Regions from separate parts of the Homo sapiens genome. Here region 1 is linked to region 2. Evidence: fine-mapped expression QTL. A gene starts in region 2. The other region holds a variant in brackets. All regions are shown on one strand. Distances are between the middles of the regions. Region 1 holds the start of DNAJB2 (DnaJ heat shock protein family (Hsp40) member B2). Region 2 holds the start of PTPRN (protein tyrosine phosphatase receptor type N).

Evidence for each region. PIP is the estimated chance that this variant, and not a neighbour inherited with it, causes the effect.
Region 1: its variant is fine-mapped to the expression of PTPRN in whole blood (TOPMed, PIP 0.94).

The regions. Positions count from the first base shown.
Region 1 is chr2:219,279,255-219,284,591 of GRCh38, forward strand. DNAJB2 (DnaJ heat shock protein family (Hsp40) member B2) reads left to right here and starts at 112. Exons shown (of 9, transcript NM_006736.6): 1 at 112-264; 2 at 544-644; 3 at 1,324-1,433; 4 at 2,464-2,517; 5 at 2,685-2,807; 6 at 3,583-3,675; 7 at 3,879-3,981; 8 at 4,165-4,235. The coding sequence starts at 580. RefSeq lists a silencer at 1-436. The variant G/A (reference allele first, on the strand shown) is at 2,675.
Region 2 is chr2:219,307,006-219,312,374 of GRCh38, forward strand. PTPRN (protein tyrosine phosphatase receptor type N) reads right to left here and starts at 2,396. Exons shown (of 23, transcript NM_002846.4): 1 at 2,213-2,396; 2 at 787-837; 3 at 439-552. The coding sequence starts at 2,327.

The DNA of each region.
Region 1 (5,337 bases), 28 kb before region 2:
CGTCGTCCTGGTGTGTGCCCAAAATAGCCGGCTCCGCCCTCTTCTCCCGGCAGCCCCTGCAGGCCCCCACCCCCCCAGGGGACAGGCGGAGCCGGCCTTCTCCCCGTCTCTAGTAGTTTCCGCACCGCTGACGCATGCCTGCGCGCACAGCTGGGCCGGGCGCGTCCTACGCAGCAGCCGCGAGCCGGGCTGCGGGTGCCAGACGGTTCCCGGCGGGGGGCAGGGGCGGGGCGCCGCAGGAGGCCGGGACTCCTGGCGGAGGAGGTGCGGCCGGGGGCCCGGGTCAGGCTGGGGGCCCTGGATCGGACTGCTGGAGTTGGGGGGCCCCGATAGGGCTCCTGGGCCTGGGCGTCGAGATAGCTCTTGGCCCCGGCCTGCGGGGGCAGATAAGGCTGCCGGAGGGAGCCTAGTCACCGGCCGCAAGCAGAGCCCGGTGTGCTCCGCTTCCAACTGGGAGCGCCTTCCGCCACCCGGGGAGGGGGACTGCTGCAGCCACAGGGTGGGGCTCTTGGTTCTTTCCGCCTGACTCCTTCTCTTCTGCAGCCCCAAGGAGGCCCGCCTGACGACTGACCAGTTGCCATGGCATCCTACTACGAGATCCTAGACGTGCCGCGAAGTGCGTCCGCTGATGACATCAAGAAGGCGTAAGTGCCTCCGTATGCAACAGAAGACCTCTCACCCTCCACCCGCCACCACCATGGGGCACTTCAGAGTGACACCTGTAGGTGTCTGAGGGAACCAGGTCGTTAGAAAGCACTGGGGTGCTTCTTCCGAGTGACACCTGCAGGGAGGAAAGAGACCCCTGGTAGAGTACAAGGAGAACGTCCAGAGAGTGAAGTAGTTAGTTCCTCTGGGAGCTGCACTGTGTTATGGGTTGTTCTCCAGTTGATCTTCCCCTCCTCCTCCTCCTCCTCCTCCTTTCCCCTCCCCTCCCCCTTCCCCCTAGATTTGGGCATTCTCAGGCTGCAGTGCAAAGATGCAGTGCAAAGAGGCTCTATGAGGAGGAGGGGCCGGTGTCCCTGTACTCTTCGAGGCCACATGTGCCCCAACCTTTGCAGCCCCAGTCCAGTGAGCCCTAGGGAGGGGCTAGGGACCCTGGCATTGTATCCGCTTGTACATGTGGTCCCAGCACTGGTGGCGGAGGAGAGAGGGTGGAACTTGATGAAAATATCACAGCAGCGGCAGCCCTAGCAGCTGGGGTGGACTGGGACCCGGGGGTGAAAGGACAGTGATAGGCTAATGGGAAAACAGGTCGTTCGGTTCCTGGGTGGGAAGTGCCTGCATTTGTCCCCCGACTCTCTCCTCTGCACCCACTTTCTGCAGGTATCGGCGCAAGGCTCTCCAGTGGCACCCAGACAAAAACCCAGATAATAAAGAGTTTGCTGAGAAGAAATTTAAGGAGGTGGCCGAGGCATATGAAGTGCTGTCTGACAGTAAGGGCCGGGGTCAGGCAGGACCCAGCACATCACCCCCTACTTCATGCCCCAGCTCACATTTTCTTAAAGCAATGTCTCTGCCACCTAGTTTCCTCTGTGCCTTTTTCCAGCCTGACATTTAAGCTCCCCCCTCCCACAGGGACAGCTCAGTGTCTGCTCCCCAGAGTCTGGTAGGAGTGGCTGGCATGAGACCTGAAAGGGGAAGGAAGCAGGGCAGGTAACTCATGTGAGCTGAGCCTCCTGCGTGCCAGGCATTGGTGGGTGTCATCTCCATGAGTTCTCACAGCCGTCCTATGAGGCAGGTTCTATCACCCCTATTTTACAGGCAAGGAAACTGAGGCTGAGAGAGGTGAAGTAACTTGCTCAAGGCCACGCAGAGCTGGAATATGAATCCAGGTCTGCCTTTTTATTGATTCATTCGAAAAGTAATTCAGTGAATGGTGACAGTGTCCGGCACTCGCTGGGTGCTGGGGAAACTGGAGGACAAGCAGGCACTGTCTTTGCCCAGAGGGGCAGGGAAGACCAACACCTACCAGGCACACACACAGACACAGTTACAGCTTGTGAAGAGTATTCCGAGGGAAGAAACAGGGCAGGTGGAGTGCTAGGGAATAATGTGCACTTGCTTTAGTTCTGGTGGTTGTAGAAGGCCTCTCCGAGAAGGTGACATTTAGGCTAAGCCCTGGTGAATAATAATGTAGTAATCATTAGCTAACATTTATTGAACACTTTCTATGTGTCAGGCACTGGTAGGCAGTTTACGTGGATGGTCTCATTTGATCTGTGCAACAACCCTGTGCGGTAGGTGTTGTGATGACAGCCATTTTCCAGATGAGAAGAGGCCAGCTGTGTGAAAGGCTGAGTTGCTGCCTAAACCTATAGCCCGTGTCCCCTGGGTCCCCTGCTGTGCCTGCTTTCCCCCGCCAAGTGTCAGAGTGTCAGTCTCTGGACAATCCTTTGAACGTCCTAGCCTGGGAGGGGAGCCCATCCCAGAGGGAGGGTGAAATGATCTGGTCTCTTTTTGCAGAGCACAAGCGGGAGATTTACGACCGCTATGGCCGGGAAGGGCTGACAGGGACAGGTAGGTGGAGTGGTGAGGCCCAGGAATGGAGGTGGGGCAGGGAGGAGAGGGGCAGGGCAGATTCTTGCAATGGAGGCTCTCTCAGGCTCCTGGCTGTGCCTTAGGTGAGGTCCCCCGCTCAGGGCAGGATGCATGCCCTAAGCTCTCTCCTCATCCT[G/A]CCTTTCCAGGAACTGGCCCATCTCGGGCAGAAGCTGGCAGTGGTGGGCCTGGCTTCACCTTCACCTTCCGCAGCCCCGAGGAGGTCTTCCGGGAATTCTTTGGGAGTGGAGACCCTTTTGCAGAGCTCTTTGGTGAGTGGACTCTGGAAGCCTCTGAATGGCTCAACTTCCCCCTCCAGGCCTGTCCTTCCATCAGCTGGGAGGCCCTGAGGTGGAAGGCTGAGAGGGGACGGGAATGCCACGGACAGAAGATTTTGTGGAGCTGGGTCCAGTGAGAGCCGGGACAGAACCTCACGTGTGCCAGAACCCCCGTAATCCAACAGTGACACTTCACAGACTCACCTTATTAAATTACAACAATAATACATTGTTAGACTTCTATAGTAACAGCCATGAAAGCAAGACTCAAAGCATCTTGTGACAATATTGTTATTATTACCTATAAAACAGATAGTGGTATTTTTTAATGATAGATATGTGCCAAATATTTTACATTTCGTAAGTCTCTAGTGAATCCTGACAGGTGGGCAATTTTCTCCCCATTTGCAGATGAGAAAACTGAGGCACAGTTAATAGCCCAGAGTCACATAACACATGGCAGAGCTGGACTCCTAGCTGTGTCTGCCTGTCATCGCGTCATGATGATTTGCCTGTACTGAAAGAGCCATCTGTCCTCCATCCCTCTTCCCCCTCCTTCCTTCCTTTATTCTTTATTGTGGACAGAATTAACCAGTGAGTGTTTTCGAATTCAACATTAAAAAGGAATTTATAAATAAGCCCAACTAAAAAGCGGAAAAGAAAAACCCTACCCAGTTGCTTAGTGGTTTATACTTCCAGACTTGGGCTCACACACTTTTGAGGGGAAATGTCATTACCAGATGACTGCTAATCTGTTTACTTGTTGCAGATGACCTGGGCCCCTTCTCAGAGCTTCAGAACCGGGGTTCCCGACACTCAGGCCCCTTCTTTACCTTCTCTTCCTCCTTCCCTGGGCACTCCGGTAAGTTCTGCCCCTTCCCACGTTTGCAAGCTCCGATTCCTGGAACCCCTGGCTTGAGCTTGTTGCTTTTCCAAGCCTGTCTCCTGTGTTGGGAGCCCTGCCTCCAGCAGCCCTGCGAGGCGGCCTGGAGCCTCGGTGACCACAACAGGCAGCGCAGTCTTCTTCTAACCACCTCTCCTCCTCCTCCCTTGTCCCGATGCCAGATTTCTCCTCCTCATCTTTCTCCTTCAGTCCTGGGGCTGGTGCTTTTCGCTCTGTTTCTACATCTACCACCTTTGTCCAAGGACGCCGCATCACCACACGCAGGTGAGAGCTCCTTCTGGGGCCATAGAGGGGTGAGAGGTCTGCTGGGGAGCTGTGTTCAAATAGAAAGTTGGCTCCTTGAGGGCAGGGCCCAGTCTGCGCTCTCTACTGCGGTGGCCAGAACTGGGACCAGCGCCTGCAGGATTCTGTCACTGCTCGTTGCCTGAACTGTGCTGTCTCCCACAGAATCATGGAGAACGGGCAGGAGCGGGTGGAAGTGGAGGAGGATGGGCAGCTGAAGTCAGTCACAATCAATGGTGAGGAGCAGCTCCCCTACCCAGCCCCTGGCAGGAAGCCCCAGCCCCAACCTCAGCAGCCTCCTCCCCAAACTGCTGCTCTCTGAACTCACTTAGGGCTTGGGAGGGAGTGGCAACAGGCCAGACTGGTAGGATCAGAGATGGCAATGTCGGGAAGGGGGTGAAGGAGTCTCACGAAGCCATCGCCGTCACTGTGAGTGGGGTGCCTTACATTTGCAAAGCACTTTACTATTTTTAAAGCACTTCCAGATATACGATATCCTCTGTATTCTTCAAGCATCTGGGGGAGTACACAGGGCAGATGGTATCCACTTAGTTTTAATTTGGGGAGCCTGAGCTGCAGCATAGTTAAATGACCCTAACTTCCAAGTAGCCCAGGCCCAAGACTCTTTCCTTCCAAGTAAGGAGTAGAGCCAGGAGTCAAACTCAGGACGCACGATTCCCGGAGCAGAACTGCCCCTGCAACACCATGCTGTGCAGGGCCGTCACCACAGCTAACCTTTCACGCCTGCTGACTCCCAGCACTGCGTACCAAGCCCTTTACATGGGCTGACATATTTAATCATTGGAACAATTTGAGTATGAAGGCACTATCATCATTCCCATTTTCTTTTTTTTCTTTTTTTGAAACAGGGTCGTGCTCAGCCCAGCACGATTATGGCTCACTACAGCCTCGACCTCCTCGGCTCAAGCAGTCCTCCCACTTCAGCCCCCTGTGTAGCTGGGACTACAGGCGTGTGCTACCATGCCCAGCTAATTTTTAAACTATTTTGTAGAGATGGGGTCTCACTATGTTGCCTAGGCTAGTCTCGAACTTCTAGGCTCAAGTGATCCTTCTACCTCGGCCTCCCAAAGTGTTGGGATTACAGGCATGAGCCACTGTGCCCGGCCATCATTCCCACTTTCTAGATGAGGAAAGGGAGGGGTAGGGATGTTGAGTGACTTGCCTAAGGGTAGGAGCTTCTACCTGGTAGAGCTGAATACTTCCTTGTGCTCAAAATCACAAGCCTAGGTGCCAAAATGCATGTGTGCCAATTCCAAATAAGAGACTCTAAGTGGTCAGGGTTGTTACTGTGTGAGGCAGCCTGGCAGTAATACCCCT
Region 2 (5,369 bases):
CAGAAACTCCAGTAAGCAGAGATCTTTGTTTTATTCCCGATACATTCCAAATACCTAAAACTATGCCTGCTACATAGTAAGTACTCAATAAATACTTGTTGAATGAGGAATTGGGTGAGTGGAATATTATCCTGGCTGAGGATTCCAGAGTTCTTGGCTCTGTAGCACTCAGACAATGCCAGTGAGAGGAACTGGTCCTAAGAAGATGGAAGCTGGCCTTTTCCAGTGACTTCTTCTTAGAAGGCTCCTCTGGGCTTCTCCAGAGAGTCCAAATGTGAATAGCCCATCTCTAGGGTTCCACCTCTTACTCTAGCAAGATATGGGAAGGTGAGGCTCCAGCAGTGGGGGTGATAGGAATATTCCTTGAAGAGAAATCTTCTTCCCCACCCATAACTAACCAAGTTCCAATCTCTCTCCTCCAGTGCACCCAGACCTTACCTTGGGACATGAGTTGTCGGAGCACACCTTGTAAGCGTTGGAGAACTGGGGAGGTGACTTGCAAAAGGGGCCGGGCCTGCCCCACTCCCACCTGGCACTGCCCAAACAAGCCATCTAAGGGCACAAAAGTGGTGTCAGCAGGGGGCTTGAATAAGAGGCCTTCCAAAGTCCAGGTTGCAAATGGACTGTACTCTCTTCACTTTCTCCCCTACCTCTCCTCCTCCAGGCAAGTCTTCCTTCTTCTCAAGCCCAGTAGCCCTCTTCCTTTCTGGGCCTTCTCTCCCCTTCTTGTTTTTTATTGCCCCTCTCCCCCCGATCTTGTGAGTTCTATGCTTGGGCCTCACTCACCCTGAATACAGACTTCCAGGTGAGAGCAGAGCCTGCGGTCAAATAGACAGCCTGTAGAGGAAAAGGTGAGCAGAGGCTCAGACACCCACTCACAGAGAATGGGCAGATGGGTGGACAGGCTGGGAACGGGAGAAGCAGATGCAATTTATTCTTTCATTCTAAAGAAGGCCTTAAGCTGGGAGGAGAGTAGGAATCAGGCCTGAATTTCTTAAAAGGAAGCATGGGATCTTGTTTTGGATTTTAAGAATTTGTGAGTCTGTATCCTTAAAAGCCTCTGTTTGCTTAACTGAGTGATAGGGAAGAAACCTTCCAGGTGCAGGGAGAGAGATTCATAGAATTACTGCAGGAGAGGTTTTGGCCAAATTCTGAAAGAGGAATTTCCTTCCCAAATATGGAAAAGCATCCTATAATGGCCTGGAACTCAGAAGAGGTTCTAGCACACTTCCCCCGGTCGGGGGAAAGAGGGCATGGGTGGGGCTGGGGAGGGTGTCTCTTAGGCATCTCTCCTCGCGCTGTCCCGAGCCGCTGGCGCTGTCCGCGGTGCTGAAGCTCTGAGTCTGGCGCCGCCAAGGGCTGGCCTTGGAGGCGGTTACCAGAGAGGAAGGGGTCACAGAGCGAGGACTCTCCACTAGACCTGAGCCCTCTGTTGTATTCTGCCAACCCACAGCGTCACAGGAAGTACTCTGCCTCTCGGGCCTCCAAGCCCGGGTGGGGAAAGAGGGCGCCAGGCGGCGAGGCTGCGCCCCTTCCCCCACGCGCCACCCTCCCATCCCCCACCCCCTGTCCGTGAGTCAGCGCTGACTGTCTCTGTCCGCACAGATGTGAGTCAGCACCAGGCCTGGCTGTGGGGAGGGGGACAAGAGAGGACCCTCCCCTCTTCATCCTCTTCTGCCCCCTCCCCGTGCTGTCCCCCGTTACAGGAGATCAGATCGCTGCAATCAGCTTCTCTAGGCTTACGGAGAAACCCTGGCCTCTCTCTCTGCCCAGCTGGGACTCTATGTCTGCGGCCCAGGCTTCCACTGCCCAGAGATCACCGTTCCCTCATTCTCCCCGCCACCTCCCCTTCCCATTCCTCAGCGCCTGTCACCACCTCCCAGGCGCCTCGGAGCAAGTGGCTTCTCCTGTGGTCTCGCAGCCGGTCTCTAAGTCCCTCTGCCCACATGCACCCCGTGTCCTTCTCCCGAACCTGCAATTTTCCCCAGAGCCCAATTCTCTTAGGTCCCGCCCCCGTATTCCCAGCCCCACCTCCAGGCCTACGCCCCTTTCCTCCGAGACGCCCTCTCACCTTCCTCATCTCGCATGCCTCCCCCAACCCATATTCTCCCCGAGCTTCATGACATTTCACCCTCACCCCCACCGAGTTTCGCTCCAGGCCCCAAGCTGCTCCCCGCCCCCCACCACCCGCCAGCCCAAGTTTCCTCCTGACCGTGGGCACTAACGGCGCTGCAGCCCCCCGGGCGGCTGCTCAGCAGCAGGAGGCAGAGGAGCAGCCGGAGACCCCCGGATCCCCCGAGACCCCCAGGCCGCCGCGGGCGCCGCATCTTTCCGAGCTCCGGGCGCTCGCTCCCGGGCCGGAGCCGCAGCGACGCTGGCGGGAGCCTGCCAGAGGGGCTGAGGCGGGGCTTGCCGCTCCCCACCTCCCTACGAGGCGGGGTCTACATGCCCCTCTCGCTGCAACGCGGCCAACCGCAGGCGGGTGCTGACGACACCTCCACCCCCGGCTCGTAAGCTAATTTGCGTCACATATGGCGTAAGAGCCCTGTCGGAGCGGGGGACCTACCTAGCCCATCCCTCCTCCATCAAATAGTAGGCGCCTCGCTAGAATTCCCACTTGGCCCCATCCCTGTAGCCCTCTTCTAGGATCACCTCTGTCTCCCCGCCCCAGGGTGGGTGAAAAGGGTTAAGTTAAGTGGGGGGCCAGGAAAGATAGGTGGGTCCAGAACGATAAACCCGAAGACAAGAAGCAGAAAAGTGGGTAGAATAAGTACTCTTACTCATTGTCATTGAAGATACTGTTCTCTTCCTTAAGAAAAAATGGTTAGGCATGCCTAGATTCCAGTTCTAGCAGGGCATCTACTAAGGGTATGACCTTGGGCACCTTGTTTAACTTGTCTGCGTCCAAGTTTCCTGATCTGCAAAGTGGAGGTGTTAATAGTTACTACCCGCCTCACACAGTGATTGTGAAGATTTTGTTCGTTACACTAATATGGATCACTTAGAAGGATGACTGGACTGGTGCATACTACATGCTCCATACATATTAGCTGTCATCATTAGCTTTTATTTATTTTTTATTGAGATGGAGTCTTGCTCTGTTGGCCAGGCTGGATACTGGCGTGATCTTGGCTCACTGCAATGTCCACCTTCTGGGTTCAAGCCATTCTCCTGCCTCAGCCTCCCTAGTAGCTGGAATTACAGGCGCACAGCACCTTGCCCGGCTAATTTTTGCATTTTTATTGGAGATGGGATTTCACCTTGTTGGCCAGGATGGTCTTGAACTCTTGACCTCAGGTGATCCAACGGCCTTCGCCTCCCAAAATGCTGGGATTACAGGTGTGAGCTACCGGGCCTGGCCTCATCATTAGCTTTGACTCTCCTTTCTCTCCGTCTGTGCCACCTCGAGGCTATCAATCATTTTATGGTTTCTCCCTGCAAAATACATCTCCCATCAGTCCACTTCTGTCCATCCTCACTACCTGAACTGAAACACTGTGCTCTTTCACCACGACCACTGCAGCAATCAGCTAGTAACTGCTCTTTTGCTTCCACTCTAGTCATCCAATAAGTAGGGGAGTGAGCTTCTTAAGTTCAGATTTGATCTCCTTCCTCTCTTGCTTTCCAGTAAAATAAAATAAAATTTAAAAAGGACAGAAATGCATAATGAATACTTACATACTCATCATCCATACTTAATGGTTATTGATGTTTTACAATATTTGCTTCTTTTTAGTATTTAAACATGAATGATAGACATCATGACATTTCTCTTCTAAATATTTCATTATGCATCTCCAAGAAATAAGGACATTTTCCTGCATAACCTAAGTGCTGTTATGACACCTAAAAAAATTTACAATAATTCCTTAATATAATTTTTTAAATTTTTTTTTTTATTTTTTTGAGAAGGAGTCTTGCGCTCTTTTGCCCAGGCCAGACTGCAGTGGCACTATCTTGGCTCACTGCAAGCTCCCCCTCCCAGGTTCACGCCATTCTCCTGCCTCAGCCTCCTGAGTAGCTGGGATTACAGGTGCCTGCCACTGCACCCGGCTAATTTTTTGTATTTTTAGTAGAGACGGGGTTTCACCGTGTTAGCCAAGATGGTCTCGATCTCCTGACCTCGTGATGCACCCACCTCGGCCTCCCAAAGTGCTAGGATCACAGGCGTGAGCCACCGCGCCCGGGCATTCCTTAATATAATTTAATGCTCAGTTCATATTCAAATTTCTCAGATTGTTTCCCCAAAAATGCCTTTTCTTTTCAGGTGTTTTGTTCAAAATAACAGTCAATTAAGAACAACCACGGCCTTTGTTATGTTTCTTAATCTCTGTAAATTAGCATAGACACCATATCCTCTCTCCCCTCCCCCATTTTTGACATTGTCATGTTGATAGACCAGGTCAATTTTTCTTTAGAACTCTTCTTCTGGGTTTATCTGATTTTTTTCTTCATGTTGTATTTCCCTGTATTTCTCCAGTGTATAACCTGTATATCACCTGTATTTCCTGTAAACTAGAAGTTATATATGAAGTATTGACTGTATCAAATTAAAGAATTTTTAAAGCAAAATGCCTCTCATTGCATCATTTCAGGAAGTACATGATGTCTGACTGTTCTATTAGTGATGTTAAAATTGATCACTGGTTTAAGGTAGAGACAGCCAGATCTCTGTATGTAAAGCTGTGGTTTTCTAATGTGACCAGCATGTAATTCTTGGATGATACTTTGGCACTGTGAGACTATCTAGTTCCTCATCAACTTTTCACCTAATGGTTTCACTATTCACTGGTGATCCATCCTTGACTAAATGATTTCATTAGAGGTTGCAAAATGGTGATTTTTATAATCCTATCATTCAATTCACGTTTATCGCTTATTTTACTTTGTAAAGAAGGGCTTTCTCTCATCAACTGGGTTTAGTTTACACTAAAATGCAATTCCAACTGGAAAGGTAACATATATTCTCAGCTTTTTCTCTTTACCCTTCTGCAAAATAATGAGTCTGTGTAGTGTAGTGACCTCTAACAGTGACTAATACATTTTTAAACATTTATTTATTTATTTAGAGTCAGGGTCTCACTCTATCACCCAGTCTGGAGTGCAGTGACAAGATCATAGCTCACTGCAGCCTTCAACTCCTGGGCTCAAGCAATCCTTCTGCCCCAGCCTCCTGAGCAGCTACCATTGTGAGCAACCATGCCTGGCTAATTTTTTTTTTTTTTTTTGTAGAGGCCAAGCACAATGGCTCATGCCTGTGATCCCAGCACTTTGGAAGGCCGAGGCAGAAGGATCACGTGAGCCCAGGAGATTGAGACCAGCCCGGGCAACATGACGAATCCTTGTCTCTACAAAAAATACAAAAATTA